2 separate regions of the Homo sapiens genome follow, and region 1 is linked to region 2. A link means that fine-mapping ties the variant in region 2 to the expression of a gene that starts in the linked region. Tissue or cell type: whole blood. Region 2 holds a variant in brackets; the other region holds the start of a gene. All regions are shown on one strand. Distances are between the middles of the regions.

Region 1 (11,525 bases), 40 kb after region 2:
CCCTGCTGACCCATAGCCACAGACCTCATTAGAAGAGTTTGGTGAGATGCCCGTGGGTCTGCCCAGGAAGCCTACCTGGATGTGGGCTTCCAGAAAGAACTGGCAACATGTGGAAGCTGGTCCCTTCACTGGCAACCATGTGGAAGCTGGTGCCTTCACTTGGTATATATCAAATAAAATCAGTCTCTGACCCACTCCCCAGACATCTTTCTTATATAGCTTAAAAATGGAAGGCATTGGCTGGGCGCGGTGGCTCACGCCTATAATCCCAGCACTTTCGGAGGCTGAGGCGAGCGGATCACGAGGAGATTGAGACCATCCTGGCTAACACGGTGAAACCCCGTCTCTACTAAAAATACAAAAATTAGCCGGGCGTGGTGGCGGGCACCTGTAATCCCAGCTACTCAGGAGGCTGAGGCAGGAGAATGGCGTGAACCCGGGAGGCAGAGCTTGCAGTGAGCTGAGATCGCGCCACTGCACTCCTGCCTGGGTGACAGAGCAAGAGAAATAGACCCTTACATATACATATCCTCACATATACATATCCTCACATATACAACCACAACCAGCCAATTATAAATCTCACCCCTTGACAAGCATGAATTGCACATGAAGCTCTTGAAGAGGTTCTAGACAGAAAATACTGCAATAAATGCTGATAATGGCCTCTTCAAATTATCCAAAATTATTAGCAACTTAAATATTCACTTCCCTGATATGAGGATGATAATGAGAAAATACAGGTAATAACTATTACAAAAAGTTAAAATATTCATCATGGATGAGTGAAGGTTGTCCAGTGCACACATACCATTACTGGTAATATTTATTTAGAGCTAGCTTCTTGCCAGGGACTATACAAACCTTTTTATAGGTATTCTCTTCTTTGATCTTCATAATCTTGTGAGGTATACATTATTAGGATCACCATTTTACAGGTGAGGTTAAGTAATGTGCCCAAGGTTACATAGATAGTAGATTCTAACTCCAGCTGCCATATTACTCTTGGGAACACTCCAAAGCTCCTACTGTACTTGTACACACACACACACACACACACACATGCACACATATGTGCATACACATTTAGTCAGCATTCTGATAGTTTTACTGAAGCAAGCATTGTTTTTATAGCATCCCCATTATCTGGTGTTGGTTGTGGTTTTCAATTGCCACTACTCTTTAAATTAATAGCTTTGTAATAAGTTTGTGGAATTACTATTAGGTTTCACTTTCATTGATTATTTTGTTCATACACATTGCTGTATTATTTTAATTACTAATTTTTTCATAATGTTTTGTTATCATTGAATTTTTCCTCTGGCAAAGTGAGATACTTGGGATGGGTGGATGTGGGGTCTCTTGCTTCACTTAAGGAAAAGTATTGAATTAAACCATGCATGCATCTGTGTCATATGCAGTGAGGCTGGCATGACTGATGTCTCTTCCCACTGTGGGTGTTTCTAGCATTTTTTATGAAATTTTCTTTTTTTATGAATTTTTCATTTTTTATGAAATTTCTTTCCTTTAAACTTGAAAAATCGTTATCTGTAACAGACCTACTTCTAGTTGACCCTTCGTCATGTTTTATAAAGTCTTTTCAAGTTTAAAAATCTCTTGGAGTCTCCTTAAACTCCATCAGGACTCTGGAGGAGTTAGGAAGCCAGTGGAGAAAGTTTTCTGGAGCTAAACCCTCAGTGCTTCCTCAGTCCTTCCCTTCCACCTGCATACTCGCTCATATGCACGGCACACTTGCTCACACAGATGTGCACACACTCACAGACACATACACTCACGTAGACAATGCATACACACAGAGGCATACATGCTCAGAAATACCCATACACACAGATACTCAGACACACTCAGTCGCTCACACAGATGTGTGCACAGTCACATGCAGACAGACATATACACTCACAAATATATAGCCAGACACACACAGACACACATATTCACAGGGAGTTGTTTAATGGAAACAGAGTTTCAGTTTTGCAAGACAGAAACATTCTGGAGATGGGTCATACAATACCATGAATAGCCTTAACACTACTGAATTGTATACTGAAAAATGGTTAAGATTATAAATTTTATGTGTATTTTACCACAATTAAAATTTTTTTTAAGACAGAGATATTTACTGTAAGAAGGTGGGTACATTAGTTAAATCTTTCTTTCCTAAGGCGAGAACAGCTTTCTTCCATTTGCCTGCCATGAGGTGAGGCAGCCCCCAGCAATCCATCACTGCTCCTCGGGAAGGTAGATTACAGGTGATCGTAGATCCCTGGCAAGAGTGGGCTATGCCCAGGGAAGCCAAAGCAAAGAGAAAACTCCTGCCATCTGGACCTGTCCCTGGCATGGGTTTTCATCTTTCCTGAAAGAAGAAGGAAAAGAGGCTGTGGGAGACATGGTCCTGTCTTAGATCCCACGCCCTATTGTGGTGGCAACTGCGATGATGCTTTATAAATTCCTTTTAAAATGTCATTGCCAGACTTTGTGAAAACGCTCGTGAGGCTTTGAAAAATATGTGAATGGATACAGAGGGCCGCTTGCCTTCCCCCACTGCTCACTACTGTGGCTAGAACCTGACTACAAACTGCCCACCCAGCCTCCCTTCCATCCTCTCCCCCAGGACACTTCCATCTGGAGTGGAAAGTTTTCTCCAGCTCCTACAGGATGAAGGGCAGTGCAGGAGAAAGACTCTCCCAAGAGACGAACTTGGGTCATTCATGTCAGAGGGTCTGGCATCTTTGAACAAGGCCAGTTGTTATTTATGTATCTACTCACCTCCCTCTGGAATTACATCTATAACCAACAAAATCCAGGTCTTGTTCAGCTGGAAAAAACCAGCAGCGTCCAGACATGACTGGGTTTTTTGTTTGTTTGTTTGAGATGTGAAGTTTTGCATGTAAATCAAATAGAGTTTGCCAGAAAATTCATTGCCTGAACAAATATGGTCTGCTCCTTGGGTATTGCCAAGTAGGAGAAAGATGGTTTGTCTGGAGAGACTGCAGAGAAAAGTGTCAATACCATAGAAATGAAAACTCAGAATTAAAGGATCAAGGTAAGGGGATCCGGAATCCCTCCTCCCACGTATTTTCTGTTTACTCACAACTCCCAAAGTTTACTACATATTTCTGAGAGACGCCAGGATCCCAGAGTGATGTGTTTAGGAATTTTTACCCTGCTTCTTGGGGAGGCAATGGGGTGAGCCCTTCAGCTTCAGAAGAGTGAGAAGGTATGCCCAGGCCCGTGCAGCCAGAGGGAGTTCACGTCTCCTTGGAGGTCTCATGCTGAGCTGGTAAGGCCAAGAAAGTAGGGGCAGAACTGGATTACCCTTGTGACGTTCTCATTGGAGTCTCCTCGTGCTCCAGGCCTATTGACATCTCATGTGAGGGACTGGCCATGCCATGATGAAAGAGCACAGTGTGTTGTGGCAGTCCTGGAACTGTTTGCCCAGAGAGCCTTTCCTCACCCTTTCCCTGTATGGATGCAGTAAAGAGTTAACATAGCAAACCTGAAACTGGCTTAGAAAGCCCTACTTGCAAGCTTGGCCCTTGTCTGGCATCTGGGAACTTGGACTTCAGGAGTCTTCCCACTGTTCCCTAACTGACAAGTGGGGCTGGCTGGGCCTAAACTGTACAAAAATTGTGGCTCATGCTTAACACCTGCTTCCTTCAGGGAGTCTGGAAAATGGCTATGAGCTAGGTAGAGGGTACCTATGTGACCAGCCCCCCATAAACACCCTGAGCACTGAGCCTCTGGTGAGCATCCCTGGCAGATGACATTATATCAGTGTTGTCACAACTCATTGCCAGGGTTGGTAGGCACAGCCCATGTGCCTTGATTAGGACAGGACCTTTGGGAACTTCTGCCTGGTCCTCCAGACTTTGCCCAAGTGCCTTTTCTCTGCTGATTTGGATTTGTATCTTTTCGTCATGATTTATCGTGTAGTATATATGATATATGTACATTTGTATCTGATCATAGCTACGTGGGTGGCCGAGTCTGGTGAGTCCTCCTAGTGAATCACAGAACCTGGGGGTAGCCTTGGGGCCCCAGCACAGGAGTGGTGGGGCTAACTTTGCAGGCGGTATTTTCCAGAGTCCTTTGTCAACTGATTCTAGTGGAGTTCAGCAAAACGGCAGACAAGGGAGGGAGAGGGAGCGGGAAGAAAGGGACAAGCTAGGATCATTCTTCCCTCCCTCTTGACCTCAGACAGTGTTTCTTGGAATTATGGGATCTAAAGCTCCCACCAGACAGGACCACACGGTTCCAGTGCCTGACCTACCCTCAGTCCTCCCGCTACAACGACACCAACTCCTCTCTGCTGTTGCTAATTGTGGAGTTGATTCACCTTCTCGTGTTTGGTTTCTTGTCTCTTCTCTCACCTGTGTAACCAATCCCCTGCCTTAAATTCCTTCTTTTAGAAAGACCTAAAGTGGTTTTTGTTTTCCTGGATGAACCCCGTCTGTTACATGCCTTAAATATTTACATGGCTCCACTTCCATGCCAGGCAGGGGGCATTCAGAAATAAAAGACACCATCCCATCCTTAAGGACCTCAGAGCCTATGCACCTGTGGAAGTTGCATCCCTAGCACAGTTCAAGATTCACTGTGTGACCAGAAACCTTTGTTCTGATGTCTCAGCCATATAACCATGAGGAATACCCTGTAAAATGAATGGGCTTCAACCGCATTCTAGGGCTTGGTGGCTTAGACACATTTTTATCGACTTTGTTTAGCACAAGGAAAGCCATTGCATTTATGATGCTCTTGAGGTTAGTGGTTTGGGGGAGTCAGAAAGCCAACCACTGTGTGTGTATGTTCACAAAGCCAATAATTAGTCTAAGGCCAAAAGTGACACCGTGGAGGTGGTTGTGAGGGTGACAATCCTGTTCTGAATGCACAACTCAACCCCAAGTCCCAGGGGTACCTGGCATCTGCGTAACCTCATCTGAAGGGTGCAAGGGTGGCTGCTCATCCTCCAACCCCACATGGATGAGGGTATCTTGGAATTCTAGACACTCAGATTTGATGTTTGCCAGGAGAACTACCAGAATATGATCGTTAAGGATTGGGGGAGGGTTTAAAAATACTGAGGAGACCTGAAATTGTATGAATGCTGAGGGGAAGCAGTGCTAGACATCTTTAGGGTCTTTCTCTAGCACTCAGCAAGGGATGTGGCAAAGACGGCCTTTGGATAGTTAAGTGGTCAGCAGCCTCTCTCCAGGGAACTCTGGCTGGAGTCCCTACCTTTTTGTACTCTAGTGCAGGTACAGCCAAGGAAACAGAAAATGATCATGCAGTGTGAGGAGCACTACAACAAGGCAAACTCCTTGCAAGACAACTGGGGAGTCAGTGGAGGGAGACTGGGCAGGGAAGAAAGATGGCAGAGGAAGATGATAGGGAAGAAAGATGGAAGCCAAATGGCAGAAGCTTAGTGATGAAGAGGAGGAGAGGAGAAACAACAGTGGAAGGCAGGGAGGGTAGATTGGTGTTGGGGGAAGGTTTTTTAAAAATACTGGAGACCTCAAATTGTATGGATGCTGAGGGAAAGAGCAGTGCTAGAGGCAGGGTCCAGCTTGTATAGGCCTTGTCAGTTTCAGCTTGCAATTTATCCAAAAAGCAAAGAGAAGTAGCCATATAAGGGCTTTGTGCAAATAATTTGATTTCGGATTTTAGCCCTGAAATGCTCATTCTGACTGCACTGTAGAGAATGGACTGGAAAGGGGTACATACACGGGTAGATTCAAGGGCTGTTTAAGAGGTAGGATAGAAAATATTTGCTCAAGGATCGGATTTGATGATTGAGGGAGAGAAACAAGGAAGCCTCAAGAATGATGCCCATGTGTCTGGTGTACCACCTGCGTGCAAAGTGATGGTATTCATTGAGGTAGGGAACTCCTGAGATGCACCAGGTTTTCCAGGAAAGTGATACATCTCATGTTAGACATGATGAGCGTGTGTTGTCACTGGGATGTGACAAATGAGGATAGCCAGTAGGCACTTAGATACGGGAATCTGCAATTCTGGAAAAGATCTTGGCTAAAGACCCAGATTTGGGAGGTGTCAGGATATAGATGGAATTTGAAAACTATGGGAGTTCCTCAGACAATCAAGGAATATTGCGCTGCACTGGAGGAAACCACAGAGTGTTCAATGTCAAGGAGGCCTAGGAAAAATACCTTCAAAGACAGAGTTCAATGCTTCCAAAAGGTCAGGTAAATAAGAACTGAATCCTGTCTTTTGGCCTGAGCACAGGCCTTGGAGACCGTGACCTCCACTTTCAGTAGAATGATGAGGCGGAAGCCAGATGGCAGATACTTAGTGATGAAGGGGAGGAGAGGAGGAGTAACAGCAGGAGTGGGGACATAGGTTGGGGGAGGTTTTTAAAAAAATACTGAAGAGACCTGAAATTGCATGAATGCTGAGAAGACCCACTATTAGCAAGCAGGAGCTTGAAGCTGCAAGAGGAAGAGTACGTAAGAGTCACAGCAAAGCCCCGGAGAACAAGGCAACGCAGAAGCCTGGTTTGGAGATGCAGAGGGAGGAGGGACCTTTCCAACTTCAGTAACAAGAAGAAAGAGGAAAAGATAGATAAGGTTGCAGGCAGGTTCATAGATTGGTAGCAGAAAATTGAGAGAATTTCTAACCAATGGCATCTTTTTTTTTCTTCTTTATAACATTGGGAGATTGAGTGGCAGGGTCAGAAATTTGAAGACAGTAAAGAAGGTTAGAAATAGCCATGTTTGACTGGGTGCGGTGGCTCACGCCTGTAATCCCAACACTTTGGGAAGCCAAGGAGGGTGGATCACCTGAGGTCAGAAGTTCGAGACCAGCCTGGCCAACATGGTAAAGCCCCATCTCTACTAAAAATACAAAAATTAGGCGGGCATGGTGGCATGCACCTGTAGTTCCAGCTACTTGGGAGGCTGAGGCAGAAGAATCACTTGAACCCGGGAGGTGGAGGTTGCACTCCAGCCTTTGCAACAGAGCAAGACTTCATCTGAAAGATAGAAAGATGAAAGAAAGAAAGAAAGAAAGAGTAAAAGAAAAAAATTAAAATTTTAGGGGGAAAATTTTCTAATTTTTGAACATGCACTAAAATGATTTTCAGAGAAAACCAAGTGTTATTTTCTAATCTGCATGGCATTATTAAAGATGTTTACTCATCTTCCTTGGGGCTAGGCATCCCATTCCTGCAGGAAGTCTTGTGGTTAGGCGGTGGCTGTGGCTCTGGGATGATTCAGGAATGCAGACCATGCCTTATTTGCACAGGAGGGACACGTTGCTCTCACTGCATGCATGGTCACAACTGTCTGTGTGACCTGTCTGTGGGAGGGCAGACCCCCCTCCTGCCAAGCCACAGTAGCAGCTGACCTGCCAGGCAAAAGCATTCCTTTGTAAAGGAAACCCTCCCAGACCCTCTGACCAAAGGGGACGGGTGGGGACTTCCTGGCACTGCAGGGCCCCTTGCCTGGTACTCCCAGCAACTGGTTGCGGTGGGGAGGGCAGATCTAGGGATGGGGATGGGGAGGAGAAGTGGGAATGGGAAATTGGGAGTCAGAGGGGCAAGTGGGAGAGAAGGGCGCACCTGCCGGGATAACAGGCCAGATGAAGTAAATAGAAAATCCTCTGAGCTCCCCTACTGGCTCCAGCTGTGGAGAAGGGGGAGGAGAAAACCCTGTGGGACAGGGGAGGAGGGTGAGGGCTCCTCTTAGGAAGTTATTTAAGAGCCAACTGTCTTGTCTTTCCCGAGTCCGTTTGAGGAAGTCCCCGAGGCGCACAGAGCAAGCCCACGCGAGGGCACCTCTGGAGGGGAGCGCCTGCAGGTAAGCCACCGACCCTGCACCCTATGAGCCAGGGCCCGCTGCGTCCACCTTCTGCACCTCGGTTTCCTGGTTGAACCAGCAAGCGGCTTGCTCTGGGCCCTGTGGCGCCGGTCACAGGCAGCTCCACTTGCCCAATCCTGGCTTCCCGCCCCCAACTCCGCACCTGCCCAGCCCAGCTTCTAAGCGGGACTTCTCTCAGGCTCTCGAGGCAGCTCTCCCGAAGCCGTTGCTTGCTTAGAATGCCACCAAATGGGGATGGGGGAGTTGGAGGTGCTTCCCCAAGGGACGAGCCCCCTTTCCTCAGGGAGCAGATTATGGAGCTGGAACACAAAAGGTGGAGGGAGTGGGGCCAAGTGAGAACAGCCTGCTAGACTGGAACCCCGCCGGCTTGGCTCCCCACTCCTGCGCGCCTCCCCACTCCTGCGCATCGCCTGCCTCCGTCCCAATTTGGAGCTGAACTCGAGCCACTTCTCCTCCTTAGACCCGCCCAGAAGCGAGGGCTCCTGCCCGCCGCACTCACCCAGCCAGGCGTGCACCTGGGGCTCCCCCCTTCTCCCCCTTAGCACTGTGTCTCCCGACAGCGCGCCACACTGTTCTGCACCCCTGGCAATGCCGCAGCCTACCTTCGGTATTTCTCACTAGAGGATGGCTCTCGCAGCCTTCTCCCTATCATTAACCCTTTTTCGCTCTTCTCCCTCCCTTCCCCCGTCAGCTCACCAATGACTGTAAATATATTTATCTATACTTATGGATACCCATTCACACCTTATGCATCCAAACACTCCTGTCTCCTTCTCAGACCAGACACCTTAGGCGTGGTTGTCTTTTCTCCAGCATGTTGTTAGTGCTCCACATGTCTCTGGAACCATCTCTCTACTCTGGTGGCCTCTATAATGGGGACTCTTCACCTCTTGGGGGTGTGCCTGGTTTTTGAAAATAGCCAAGTCTCCAGGAGTCATGACTGGGTAATCCAGGGGATCAAGGGGGAACCTTCACTGGGCCCAGAAACAAAGTCCCCCTTCATTTGGTCATTTGGTCAACAAGTACTTACTGGGCACTGACCGTCAGGTGTGTGTTGTTTAAACTGGCTCAGTGCCTGCACAAGCTCCAAGGGAAGGGGAAGCAGGCTTGGGGAATGGGAAATGTTGGCAACCCTGACTTCTTAAGCCTATTGATAGCCCTATTGAAAATTGCATGCCCAACCTCTCCACCTCCTTATCCTCCTCCATGTGGCTCAATTTCCAAAGCAGTTCCTACCTCCTCACCCCTAAGTGGATTTACTTATGGCTCTTCTTGGGCTCCACCCTAACCCTATCAGACTATAATCTATCAGAGCAAACATTCTGTTTTGTTCTCTGATGTATCCCATGTACCTAGATCACAGCCTGGCATGTCATAGGCCCTCAATAAATATTGGTTGAATTAAATTGCAAATGTAAACGCTTTAGAAGACAACATTTGTCTGGACATGGTTGTGTGCGTTTATTCTTAAAAGTGACTTATAATCTCATAAATCTGTATGAAATGAACATAGATACAGCACATGCATATAACAGGAAACATTTCTTGCGAAGATGCTGCTGTAGGATTATGGAGGGTGGGGGAATCTGGGTCTCCAAAAATCTTTTAATTTTTAAATTTCTTTGAATAAGCCCCTTTTCTTCTGCTTTCCATATGTTTTGACACATACAAAAATCTCCCCAAGATCCTTGGGGAACTGTATTCCATCATTAGACTAATCCTTGCTGCCACTTCTCAGTTTTTATTTATGCAAACGGCAAAATGTGTTGCTCAAGTGCTATCACACACAGATATATCTGTTTCTCTATTTTGGAATCCTTGTCTCAAATGTTACTCACTTTACATGCCTTTTCTGTTGTCTTCTTTTTTTTTTTTTTCTGAAGGACCTTGTAAAGTCAAAAATGTCAGAAACTTCCAGGACCGCCTTTGGAGGCAGAAGAGCAGTTCCACCCAATAACTCTAATGCAGCGGAAGATGACCTGCCCACAGTGGAGCTTCAGGGCGTGGTGCCCCGGGGCGTCAACCTGCAAGGTATGAGCATACCCCCCTTCCCCACCACTCTGGGTCCAGGCACAGCCGGGCCCTGGCCCCTCTTCCCTGCAGGTAAACATCCTCTGTCTCCACTGGGGTTCCCACAAAAGGAAGCCCCCTGCCAATCTCTGGTTTTATAAAGGAAGAAAGCAAAAGCTTTCTTTTAAGTGGTGAAAGCACCGAAGACCCAGAGCCTTGTCCCAGTTCTGCCCCTTACTGACCTTGTAACCTCAGAGAAGTTGCTTTGTCTTTCTGCCTCTCAACTATTTCCTCTACAAAACCAGAGTGCTGGATTAGCTAGGGCCTCTTCCAGCCCTACTGCTCAATGCTTTAGAGAATTTTCTCTAGCTGGAATATTCCACTTCCAAAATATTGTGGCTGTTTTGATTGTCTGGCTTGCACCTCCTTCCTTCTCCCTCCTCCCTCCTCCATCCATTGCTGTGAATTTCAGAGCCGGGGAGAAGTGCCAGACTCTGACAGTAATAGAGATAGAAGCCCTCTATTTCTCTCCAGAGCAGCCTGGTGAGCTGGCAAGGCAAGCTGCTTCCCCAGCCTCTTGCCTCTGCCTGATCCCTAGAAACCTGTTCCGGGTACAGCAGCCGGCAGCTGACCTCCTCTCAGCCCTGTCAGTGGTGACAAGGTCCAGGTGCCAGCACTGGTTTGGTGATACAGACATCATTCCCCTGGGCCATGGCAGGGACATTCAGACTCATGTCCCCGAGTGGCATTGAGCAGGGAGTCTTTTTTGTCAATAACATTCATGCACCAAAATCTAATTTTACTCCTAAGGGTGTTCTGTGCTGGGTTTCACTGGGGATAAACACCTATTTGCTGGGATAGGTGAGCATGGTCATGCTGGAGCTGTGTGGTCGATTCCCCTCATTAGAAGGAGACCAATGCCTGAAAGCCCAGATTGATGCAGCTCTCCATATAGCAAAGGGAAAGGGGAAGTGCAGTTTATCCAGCAAGCCAGACACTTGCCCAGGTGTTGTGGACTGGTGTCATTGTGTTACTGTCACACTAGATGATTTGATATCAAATAGTGAAATCAGGGAGGTATCCAGTACCATCCAAGTTTGGGAAAAGAAGTTCACAGAACAGAAGGGCATCTTCAGTCAGGTGGTAGAGTTTGAGGGGCTAAGACGAACTTGTAGTTCTGAAATCTGTCTCCCAGCTGGATGCCACTCTCTAAAACCCCACCTTGACAGCCACAGAACTGAGTTTAAGAGGACTTGCTAATCAATGAATCCTCATCCCCATGTTATATGTTAGGAAATAGAGGCTGAAGGTAAGCAGTTGATATTCACTGCTTACCCAGTCTACGAGTCTTTTTCTTTAAGAATGCAAATAAAATGCAAAAGCCTACAGATATCAAATTATTAAGCAGGTTGCCTTTGTGTATTCCATCTTCTAGCAAAATTCCCCTGTGGCCCAAAAGACTCTGGGCCCCCGGAAAGGGGGTGTAGGCACTGGAAGAAGTGGGCAGTAAGAACAGGAGGAGTAATGACACAACCGTCCTTGCCACGAGGAGTCAGGACACAGCCACCCTTGCCAGGATTGGGAAAAACGGGAACCTCTACAAAGGCAGTGCAGGGAAGCAGGGAAGCAGAGAGCAGAGGCAGAAGACCTGGCTTCCTG
Region 2 (12,239 bases):
CAGAGAAAGGAAAATCAAGTGAGCTGAAGAAGGAAGCACAGTGGTGGGACTGACCAACTGCACTCATGACCATTTAACCATGTGTTGGCTTGTGTAAGGGTGTGGAGCTCACTAGAGGATTTGAAGATGTTCAATCTTGCAACATACTCAGTGACTGTGTGTCCTAGAAATAGCACAGCTTCTATAGGGACTAGAGGGAACAGAAGAGTGGGGCTGAGGAGACGGAGGTAAAAAATTGACAGAGGGTTATTTTGCCTAAATCAGCATGACCTCAGAGGAGCTTGGATTAGACCAATAATATTGGGTTGGTGCAAAAGTAATTGCAGTTTTTGCCATTACTTTTAATTACTTTTAATTTGCCATTACTTTTAATTTGCCACACATTCCATTGACTATTCCAGAACTACAGGTTCACCTAATGTATTGGGTTGGTGCAAAAGTAATTGCGGTTTTAGCCGACTAAATCTAGATCTAACCCATCTAGATTTAGTGGGCTTTCTTCAAACAGACTGCGCTGATCAGGTAGATGATAATAGGATTTTTTTTTTCCATTACCAAGACTTAGATAAGGTAGTCAGGGAGTAGTCAGTAAGCCTGGTTTCTAATGATAGCTGTACCACTTACCTGTGTTACCTAAAGCAAGGCACCACATTTGTTTGGCTTCAGTGGCTTCATCTATAAAATGGATGATTGCATAAATGATCAGTCAGCCCTCTACACCTCCTAACTCAAACAAGCAATGTAGTTCAGTTGCTATGCATTTTGTAAGGCTGTGGTTCTCAACCAGAGGTGATTTTACTCCCAGGAGACAGTTGGCAATGTTTGGAGACACTTCTGGTTGTCATTACTGCTATTGGCATCTGGCAGGTGGAGGCCAGGAATGCTGCTAAACAGTCCTTCAATGCACAAGGCAGCCACCCTGCCCCAACAAACATTTATCCAGCTCCAAATATCAATAGTGACAAGGCCGAGATACCCTGCTTAAGGGGGAGAAACTGACACTCAAAAGAGGACATGACACTGTCTTGTTCTCTAAGTGTGGCTGGGGAAAGTTATGGCAGGTTCTATGCCATGAACTATGGAAGAGTAACAGCATATTAGAGCTAGCATCTTGATATGCTTTTCTCCCTTGTTGAGTGTAGAATATAACTTCTCAATAAGTTTCTTTTAAGATGATGAAATAAACTCTAATTGAATATGCCATCTGGGAACATTGAACTGCACAGAGACAGCAGTGGGCTCAATTCACATTATTCTCCCCACCCACTCTGGGTAAGTCTGAGTGTGAAAGGACTACTCAACTGCTGTCATACCGTCCATTTTTAAACACCTTTCCATGAAGAAGCTCAGAGTTCTACATTGAACATGATAACACTGATCCTCTACTTACCTTAATGTTGTCTATTGCATTTTAAGGGAAACTGAGCACAAATGATCTTGTGGTGGATCTAGAATCATGACTTGGCTTTGCTGGTTCTTTCCTCTAGGTTCAATCCATTAGCAGATTTTGCCCATCGCCGATGTTTCTGCCACATGCACATGTTCTGCGTGAACTGTGCTTCTGCAAGAGAGGCTGCTGTATAAATCTCACTTGTGAGGATTAAGCGAGATTATGTATATAAAAAAAGTAGATGCCCAGAACATGCTTGTGTTCTTTGAAAGGGCCAAGCTAATGTTGAGCAACAGCAGTGGGTAGATCTTGAGATTAAATGTCACCTCCATGCTGTTGCCGCTTCTCAGTCTACTTCTTAATTTGAAGCGGGTGGTGATTGAAAGTGAAGGAGGTTTGTTCTGTCCCAATCTGGACGTGTTTCATGTTTGGGAATACAGGAAAACAAGACAAGTGGGCCAAACTGCCTTGTTTCAATGCTCCAGTGACCATGAGGACTAATTGCTGTGCTAACAAGAATGAGAGTTTATTCAGACTTAGCGGATCAATGGACACATTCAATTTTCTACAGGCGCAGCTCAGTCCTGTTCCGCCTCTACATGTGCATTCCAAAGAGGCACTGATCTACAGTAACCTCCAGATGGCTGCAAGTCCCCAGTCCTCAGCGTGGGATAACCTCCAGCAGGAGAGAGCCCCGCAGGCCGATTACAGCCACTGCTGTCTTTTTCTATTCACCTCTAACCTTTCTTCTATGTCCCTAACACCTATAGAGTTTTAATCACATTCCAATTCAAGATAGATATACTATAAGTAGAATAAATCCTGAGAGGCTGTATGAAAACCTAGTTCTGTTCTTGGGATGACTAAAGGAAACATGAACTAGAAGGGTAGTTAGAAGGTAACAGAAGAGAAAGCAACTAGCATGCAATTTACAGATATTTTCTTTTCCTTTATAGAGATGAACTTCAACTTGGTTCCAGATGGGTGGTCCAGCTATTCTGCTGACAACATTTTTCAGGGCAAGGCTTTTGCTACTGGAATGATTTAAGGAAGATCCCTCAGTGTTTCAGAGTAAAGATATTTCTAAAGAAGTACCTGTGTCATTGCCCATCTTGAAGATTGACTTTTATGGATTGCTCAAATACTGATATCAGCTCAATGTCAATATATACTCCTACATATAAAATCCATCTTCTAATCATAATCACTAGGTAAGATGCTAGTGCAAGTTGAAGTTCTTAAAGGAGATGACCTGAACAGCCTTCTTAGTGTACCAGGGAGACCAGATTGAGTTTAAACTATGTTTACCCTGCACTCAGACACGCCTAGGTGTGTCTGGGAGATTAGTAGATGGTGTTCAACAAGGATCTATTTAAACAAGGGAGACATTAATTTGGATTCCTTTGGTTGTAAATTTCCAAAAAAAAAAAAAAGGTCTAAGTTAAAATGTTTAAGGAGGATGGGGGAAGAATGTGATGACTGTTATAGTTAATGTGAGCTTTAGGCTTGGCCGGATCCAGGTACTAAAACAATGTTATTAGATAATAAATCTAATTAAATATAATCTAAATTTCCATCTCGACTCTGCTTAACCCTGTTGGACTGCAAGTTAATGGTAAAATGAGCATCCATCACATTCACCATTCCACTTGCTTCAAGTCTAGTGGAAATAAATGAGAAATTAGCTTATTTTTTAATTGAGTGATTGAGCAATAGATCTGGGCTTGGATTTCATTGATGTGGTTCTCATCTCTATCACTACACTCCCCAAAGTCACCAAAGATTAGGGTGACCATGCATCTCAGTTTGCCTGCGATGGTCCCAGTGTATATCTGCTACCTGAGCATAAATATGGATAAACCCTGCTGTAGTTATCCTTGAAGATGGCCCTCAATTAATTATCCTAGTCTCTAGTCTCCAATTGTTCACACTCTTCTGGGACCCCTTCCAGATTGAGTAGGGCCAACATAAGTAACCACTTCAGCCTTGCTCTCTCGGGTTGCTTGACCCGGGGGAAGACAGTTGCCATGTTGTTAGAATACTCAAGCTGTCTGTGGGATGCCCGCGTGGGGAGGCACTGAAGCCCTTGCCAACAACTGGTACTAACTTTCCAGCCATGTGACTGAGTCACCTTGGAAACAGATCTCACAGCCCCAGTGAAGCCTTTAGATGACTGCAGTCCCAGCCAATAGCTGGCTGCCATCTCATGAGAGGTGCTGAGCCAGAACCTGTACCAAATTCTAAATTCTAGACCATCTAAACTGTAGGAGGTAATAAATGTTTGCTGTGTTAACACAGCACTGAGCTTTGGGGATAATTTGTTGTACAGAAATAGATTACTAGTACATATCCTCTTTCACTCTTAAAAGTGTCCCAGTTTAGAAAATAAACTAATTGTTCACCGACCGATGACCTCCATGTTGACAATGCTAGTCTTCAATTCTCCATCAACCCCTATACTCGTTTTCCTCAATGTGTCAAAAGTATTCGGTACACTTGACCACTCCCTTCTCTTTGACACAATTTCTTCACTGTGCTTTCAGAATAGTATTTTCACAGGCTACTCCTCCTCAGGGTTGTTTTTTTTTTTTTTTTCCTTAAACACACTCTCATCCTTTCTTTAGCCCTGGATGCTGCAGGTCTCCAGGATCCTTCAGAAGTCCTCAGAATTTTTCTCTTATCTGTTTAATATTAATGCTTAGTGCCTCATCGATTTCATTTAGTCCAATGAACTTATAAGATGAACACTCCCAATGTTAACTCACTGGTCCAGATGTCTTCCTATGCTCCAATCCTGTGTAATCAGCTGCCTAGTCAGTATCTCCACTGGATGTTTAATATGCATCTGAAATCAACTTGTCCATAACCGAAGTTCTGATCTTGCTCCATAAGCTTTCTTCCCCTTAGACTTTCACATTCCAATTAAAGATAGCTAGCAGTACTTCTAGAGTTTCTCAGGCTAAAAATCCTGAAGTTGTCCTTAACTGCTTTTCCCTCCCACCTCACATCCAACACAAAGCAAATTCTGAGTCCAAGCATGCTCTCCAACCCCTCTACTATTACTAACCTTACCCAAGTTACCATCACCTTTTGCCCGCCCCCAAATATCTCCCTCTCAGCACCCTTCGATCTATTCACTACACCCCAGCCAGTCTGTGCTGATTCTACAACCGAGGTCAGATTGTGCTGCCCTCTGTGCAACCCCTACCATGGCTTCTTACCTAACTCAGAAGAAAACCCCAAGCCCTTCTCAAGGTCTGCAAGACCCTATGAAATCCAGCTCCTTCACTACCTGACCTCATTTCCTTCATGTTCATCTTGATCATACCACACTCACTTACTAGGGGTGGCCTGAAGATGTCAGGTGCAATCCTACGTCAGGTCCTTTGCACGAGTAGGTCCCTCCACTGGGATGCCCTTCCCCCAGATATCCATTTGACCACCTCACTTTATTCAGTCTCAGCCCAAATGCCACCTTGTCAGAGTGGCCCTTGACGATCACTATATAAAAGTGATCTCTACCATCACTTTCTCTCTGCTTATTGTCCTTTGTTTTTGTTTTTCTTGATAATGGTCACCACTAGCTGATGGAGTTGAACATATGTATATGTGTGTATATATATATATGTGTGTGTGTGTATATGTAATATATATATGTATATATGTGTATATATATATGTCCTTCCCCAATTTTCTCCCTCTAGAATGTGAAGTTTTTGAGAGAAGGACTGTTGTTCATTGCAAAGCCTGTTGACAAAAGTCCTTGTGGGCCATGGAAAGGACAAGATGCCATGAACATGGGTGCTGGCACCTTCTGCCACCATGGGAAATGCCCCCAATGGCTTCAGCTTCCTCAGCCAATGGCAGCCTGGCCATGGTCCTCCATATTTTTAGCCCATTTCCTATTTCCCATTTAGAAAAAAATGAAACAAGTGCAGCTTGCTACCAGTGCTCATTTAATTTACATAAACATGCTGTTTGAGGCTGAAGCAAATCTGACTGATTTGCAATGTGAAAATAAAATATAAAAACACTTCATGTAGTTATTTCTAAACAGAACTTGTCTCTAATCCTAATGTAACACAGATGTATATGATGTTACATTAAGATGAGAGACAAGAGTATTCTCAGGCAAACAGGAAATAGGTTAACAGGTGCAAGACCAGCCTTGGAGCAATCTGATGGGCGCCATCAGAGGAGCAGTGTGACTTCTGGGCACTGACCACAGCAGTGCTGGTTGGGTACAGCTAAGGGTAGGGATCATCCCCAAAGAAAATGGGACGAGGAAAGAAGAGCATTGGATGTCTCTTAGAGCCAACAGCACTGGCACTCAGAGTACAAGTGAGACCATCTCTGGGAGAGCCCAGAACCCTTCATCACATTATCAGCTCCTCACAGAAGGGCTCATGACTATCCTTTTCACAGCTGTATTCCTCATACCATGACTGGCACATATTAGTCGTGGCTCATAGATGCTTGTTGAGTTTATCAATGGTTCTGCATGAAGAGTTTGAGAAAGGCCAGA[G/A]ATTTATCAGAGAATGGAGGGGTGGAGACCCAGAAGTATTGATCTATGATTGTTGAAATGCTATTTTTATCATCAGAAAGATTTGGTCAGGGGCCTACAGGAACACTAGGAAGATACTTATAAAATATTCTGCTTCTTTAAAATCTCTCCCTTTGTAGAGCCATTAATCACAGAATTCCCAACCTGACGCCCCACTTTGTGGGTCTGTCGTCACAACTAGGGTATCTAGCTCATTGCCCCAGTTGCTCTTAACCTCTAAATTATGTTTTATACCTTTTTCTGCTGCTGCCATCCTAGGTTTTGCTGGCAGTAGAAATAAGATTGCCCCACTATCTTTCTTAAAACGATGTGAAATTTTCTGTTGCTCACTGGGTTAGTAGTTGACTCATGCTGCAGGAAATCTGGGAATTGAAGATGTGACAGATAATTAAGCCCCAACTCTCTCAAATAAACTCCTTCCCCTTCTCCATTACTCCTTCCTTAACTGTTTACTGTCAATTATGTGCTAAGCAATATGTAAAACATTAGGACTGTAGTAATAAAAAATACCCAATTTGTTTTAAAAATGTTTTTGAAAAGTAAAAACAAAAGGCTGAACCATGATGCTGGAATAAACAAAATTGTTGTTGAGCTTAGACTCTGAAAATTTTCTCTGCTTTTACCCTGTGTGTGTCTGAAGGTGGATATTGTTATGCAAGGAAGAGATGTGAATATACAGGAAATGAGATCCTTAAAGGGGTTGCCGTCCAGATGTTAGATCAAAGAGATTATGATTCATTCAACCAAGTCGCTGGACTTTTGAAGGCCTATCCAAGTCATGGTGCCTTTGAGGTTGCGCCTGTTACTATTCAAAACTTGGTATGTGTTATTCCATGTAAATGTTATGCAATGATTCAAAAATGAATACCAGGTTGAAAGATGTTATAACAGTCCCTTGTTCCAATGAACTCTACCTTTGTGAGCAAAGGTGACCAAAAAGACCACACTGCATGACCAGCAGCCCACAAACCAGACTGGGCTAAGTTCTGCTGCTATTTCTAGAGCTTGCTGCTGTTCAAAGCACTCCTTGGGTCCAGCCAGATTGCCATACTTTCTTGATGTATTTCCCATGGCTGCTTCATTTGTTGTTCATTTCTCTTAGTGCTTTTAGTAGGTTATTGTTTTAGGTGGCGTATCTGTACCTCCTCATAAAAGATTTTTGGGTCCACATTTTCCACTCAAAATCATAGTAGCCATGATGAACACCTGGCATCCTTTGGACAACTTTCCATAACTACATAATAATGAGCCAGTTTTTACCATCCATATTAGATATGGCTAGAGTGACTATTTTCTGAATCAAAATTGTGCTGAGCATTTGCCAAATATCAGATAAACTTAAAGCCCTAGAAGTATCTTAGAAAGTCCAAGGGGAGTGTCATTGTTCTAGACTTAGTTCAAAAGATGCTAGACAATGGCGTCCAAGTTCAGCCTTTGTAGACATATAGAGTGAACATTACCCTTGCTGTTATAGGTTTTATTCTCCACTGAGGGCCACAGAGCCTCACCATTGGTTTGCCCCACACACAACAGGGTAAATTCCTACTCCTTTGTCAATTAGGAATTTTCCAGGCAATGTGTTTACCTCTTGGGTAAATACATTACTTTCATCAGTGTAACTTAACTATAAAGTATTTTTAGAGGATCAGATTATTTGAGTATGGCTGTGATAAGTCTCTCCTTAAATGGACCTTAACAAAGTAGAAAGAAAACGTTAGCAGACATTTCAGACTAATGATGTTTTCTTTTTTTCAAGTGGGTTATTTAGAGTTGAATAGCAATTACTTAAAGCTAGTAGCAAAGGAACATTTTCTGTAATGATGTTTATTTATGCCTTTTCATTCTATAACATTCAGCATGTGACAAAGGAATTAGAGAAAAGACTAGTCGAATCTGGAGCCATGCAATTAATGAAATCCATATGTTTGAAGAAATCGTCTTATATAACTCCCATGCTTCTGATATTTCCTAGAACGTCTTAGATTGAGGTCATTGTGCACTATTAACAGAGTCCTGGTTAATAATGTACAATGACCTTAATTCAGCATGTTTTTAATGAATAGCTGAACTTCATGCTTATAACATCCTGACTATGCTTACAAATATTTTTCTAAATTGCTGGTCTGTTTGCAGATGCATTATCAGTGCATGCAAAAAATAAGATTATGCCTCGTTTAGGATTCTCTTTCTTGTAAAGTCCAATCACTGCTGCATTAAGATAGGTATGGGAATGTGTAGGCAAAGTCACATATAGTGACACACATTGGATAAAAAATATAAACTTCAGCCACATGATTCTTTCACTCAAAAACATAATGTGGCTCTCCTTTATATCTTTTTTTAATGATTTGCATAGCTTTCCATTGTGTGTATGTGCTATAATTTGTTTTAATAAACCCCCACTAATTGATAGCTGGATTGTTTCCTAGTTTGTAATTTATAAACCATGATGCAATTAACACCCAGGGAAACATATCTTTGTGTACTTGACAAATATTTCTACAGCATAAGTTTCTAGAAGGGGAATTTCTGGTTCAAAGGAAATGTACACTTAAGCTATGATTGGTATTGCTAAAAAACTATTTGTTTCAAATTCTCGCCAATTCTGGGAATCGGCATTTTCAATTTTTGCCAATTTGATGTGTCAAAAATCTTACTGTTGTTTTGATTTGCATTTATTTGATTAGTAAAGAGTCTGAATATCTTTTCATATATTTACTAGCCATTTTTATTTCCTCATTTGAAAACGGCCTATTCCTGAGCTTTGTTCATGGTTGTGTTGGATTGTTCTTTTTCTCATTAAGTTATACAAGCTCCTTGTGTATTACAGGAAAAAAAAAAACCATCTATTTTAATACATATGTTGCTTCCATTTTCATACTAATCACATTAGTATGTATTTTTCTATTGTACACTATTATTAAAGTTTCCCTCACTTTGATTCTCTGGCAAGTCCTATAAATTTTATGAGCAATTTTATTAAAGACATTTTTAAATATCATTATCAAAAAAGAGTGGGAAACTTTGCCTAAATATAGGAAAAATGAAGAAATGTACAGAACTTTTTTACTAAACATACAAGGTTTAATGTATATAAAGAAAAAACCTTTTATTTTTCCAGAAGATTCTTGAAGTCTGGCAATTCTTGGAGATCAAAAGTCTTGCATCACTTATGGAGACACTTCAGGCATGAGAGAGAGACCTATCTGTATCCCCTTAGAACACAGCATTATCAACTCCAGCAGGAGTAGAGTGTATTGTAGAAAGAATATGGGTCATGTAGACATTCTAGTTCATCATTCGTCATCATGTGCCCTGGTTTACCAGACAGTTCACTTCCTTTTCTGTGAAGTGCATGCAATTATACCTGACCTGGATGTAGGATTACTGTGGTCATTAAATGAGGTACACTATGTAAAATGTCTATATATAGTAGATGCTCAGTAAACACTCCTGTTCTCAATCCCGCAAGTTATCTCATGAAAAAATTGTACCTATAGCTACTCAACTGTGACAGGAACATTTAAAATGTAAAATCACCAAGTCAGTCAATATAAGGGTTCAGCTCTTTCTTGAAATACTCAGTTGCTGAGGTTTCTCACAAGTAAATCACGATACACTTGATTTTCTAGAATGAGGTGGAAAGTATATTCTCTTCAAGATAGTTCATAGCCTCTGTACATTTTAAATATCTAATGTTAATGCTGAAAATGATGCTTACTAGGGAAAGCAAGTGCTGCATGACAAATATTAGGGTCCATAAGCCATGTGAGTAAACTGAGAAGCTGGTCATAGTCCAAGAAGTGGATCAGGTATATGACTTGGTGTATGACTGATGCCTTATACGTCTACTTTGGCAGGGAAGGCCTCAAATACTTTTAGACAATAGTCTTCTTGGGGAGAAAAGTATGGCACCTGCAATTAGTCATGTTGATAGTACACACTCTTGATCTCACATGATGAAAAGGGCACTTCAGCTCTGTGGTCTTTCTCCCTCCAAAACCATAACCCCCATCTACTCATGAGGACAACTTTAGACAAATCCCGACTGAGGGGCCTTCTACACAATATCTGACCAGTGTTTCTCAAAACTGTCAGGGTCATCAAAACTAGGAAAGTCTAAGAAACTGTCCCCAGAGGAGCCTGAGGAGATACAGTGACTAAATGTAATGTGGTAGCCTGGATGGGGTTCTGGAACAGAAAAAGGACATTAGGCAAAACCTAAGGAAATCTGAATAAAGTATGACTTCAGTTAATACTAATGTATTACTATTGGTTTGTTAATTATAACAAAAGTACTGGACTAATGTAAGATGTTAATAATAGGGAAACTGGGTGTGTGGGCATATGGGAACTCTCTGTTCTGCCTTCACAATATTCCTATAAATCTAAAACTCTTCTGAAATGAAAAGTTTATTTTAAAAAAAATAGCTTCTTGCTTCACCGTCCATTCCACTCTCATTTAGTACATCAAAAAAGCAAAAAACAAAACTTCTGGAAAAGTATTTTCCCCAATACTTCTGGAAAAATAGTATGCTTTTAAGGAGGTTAAAGTCTCAATGTCACAAATCAGCATTTAATTTTCTCCAAATGTGTCTCAGATACTGGTCTCTTCTCGTCTGGGTTGCCCACTGTTTTGGGGGCCTATGCCAATCTGGGGCGCTAGTGGATGCTCGATAAATAATTAAGAATTGGTAGAGTGATGTGACAATTAGGTCTTTGTTAAGTAAATTCTGAATTCTGGCCAAACCAGTCCATGTCATGAAGTGGCTCTATTCTACAAGAAGCCAGACTGCAGACCAGCTGTGGGGCAACATCCAAGGTTGGCTTGCATGCGTGTGCACAACCACTCTCCTCACATTCAGTTCTCACGCGGCAACACATCAGTTCTGGACAGAGGGTACAAGATTAAAAAATGAGAGTTGATCTTTGCACAGTGTCCATGGCAGGCCCCTTCTCCTGGCCTGTAAATTGTGGTTGGGTACTACATGGTCTTAAATACAACCAGTTCAGGCAGAAATCACTGAAGCAACATTTAAAAAACAAACAAACAAAAACACATCATTTCTTAGTCAGCTAGGGTGTTAGGAGTTTCCCAGTATTTTATTTAAACTAATGAACCAAAGCATTTATCAGACTGAGTAATTGACTAATGCAAATTTACATGTTCAAATGGATGCATATTCCAAGTCAATTTGGCATGTTCTCCATCTATACGCTCCAGAGTGCCGTACTATTTGCAGAGCACGTGGAATATAGAGAAATCTCAAGTTCATTTCTCATGTGTGTGTGAGCATGCTGATGTGTGCATGTGTTTGTGTAATGTTGGTTACTAATAAACTTCAGCCAGAGGAAGGAAAGGAGTGAAATATCTTATATTTAGCAGCCTTTCCAATTGATTTCAAATGAAATTGTTGCTTAGTGTTTTCTTTATATCAATAATGAAAAATGGTGGGGGTGACAAATGAGTCTTGACTTTCCAGGTCGCAAGGATGGTAACAGAAGGCACTCAGCAGGTCTGCCCACTCCTGTTGTTAATTAAAGTATTTTCACATTCTCCAGGGTGTAATGCACTCTGGGCATTGAGCCCCAGAGAGACTTGTGCAGTTTAATAATCACACATTCGAATAAATGCAGTAGGGGTCCACCAGGGAACAGATCGCTTCTCCACTCTCATTAATGTCTGCAACACTCTGCAAATATCTGAAATGCACTGGCTCCATTTCTTACGAATAATAAATAATATTCACGCTCCTAGTTGCTCAGTGGCTCAAGGCAAGGCAGACACCCACCTGCTCAGCTGAGACCAACGTGGGGGCAGGGAGTGACATTTGCAGCTCAGAGCTTGCTTTATTGCATTCACCAAGTGGTTCTTGCCAAAGCAGATTTCCTTGGATTTGTTACACCCTTTGTCTGGATTGCACTGTAATTCTCATTTGTTGGCACTGTTAATGCATTTGTCTGCGTATGAAATATGAAGACTTTTACAAAGCTGATCTTGAACTGTCAGAGGGTATATCTGCACACCCCCAAATCATCTTAAAGACCTCGAACCTCAGAAAAACGACACATTTTAAATATTCGACATCCTTCCAAACTACTGCTAAACTAAATTGAATGTAAGCCTCCTGAATACTTCAAATTTTAGTTGAAAGAAAGTTGGGGCAATTTTACTTCAGGGAAGTATATAAGTCCAAAAACTCAGGGTAGGAACTAGCTGATGGAAATAACGCTAGGATTTGACCCTTGCGAGTGTTTGTAGAAGATCGGGACTCCTGTTTCAGT

What was found.
Region 1: F13A1 starts here. The variant in region 2 is fine-mapped to the expression of F13A1 in whole blood (TOPMed, PIP above 0.99).

What each region holds. Positions count from the first base shown.
Region 1 is chr6:6,316,897-6,328,421 of GRCh38, reverse strand. It overlaps F13A1 (coagulation factor XIII A chain), which reads left to right and starts at 7,760. Exons shown (of 15, transcript NM_000129.4): 1 at 7,760-7,835; 2 at 9,740-9,887. The coding sequence starts at 9,758. All of the region lies in intron 1 of LOC124901253 (a long non-coding RNA gene), which reads right to left.
Region 2 is chr6:6,356,717-6,368,955 of GRCh38, reverse strand. LY86-AS1 (LY86 antisense RNA 1) reads left to right here. Exons shown (of 8, transcript NR_026970.1): 6 at 2,347-2,601. Among named protein-coding and RNA genes, the nearest start is that of F13A1, 42 kb to the right of the region's middle. RefSeq lists an enhancer at 6,135-7,334. The variant G/A (reference allele first, on the strand shown) is at 5,916.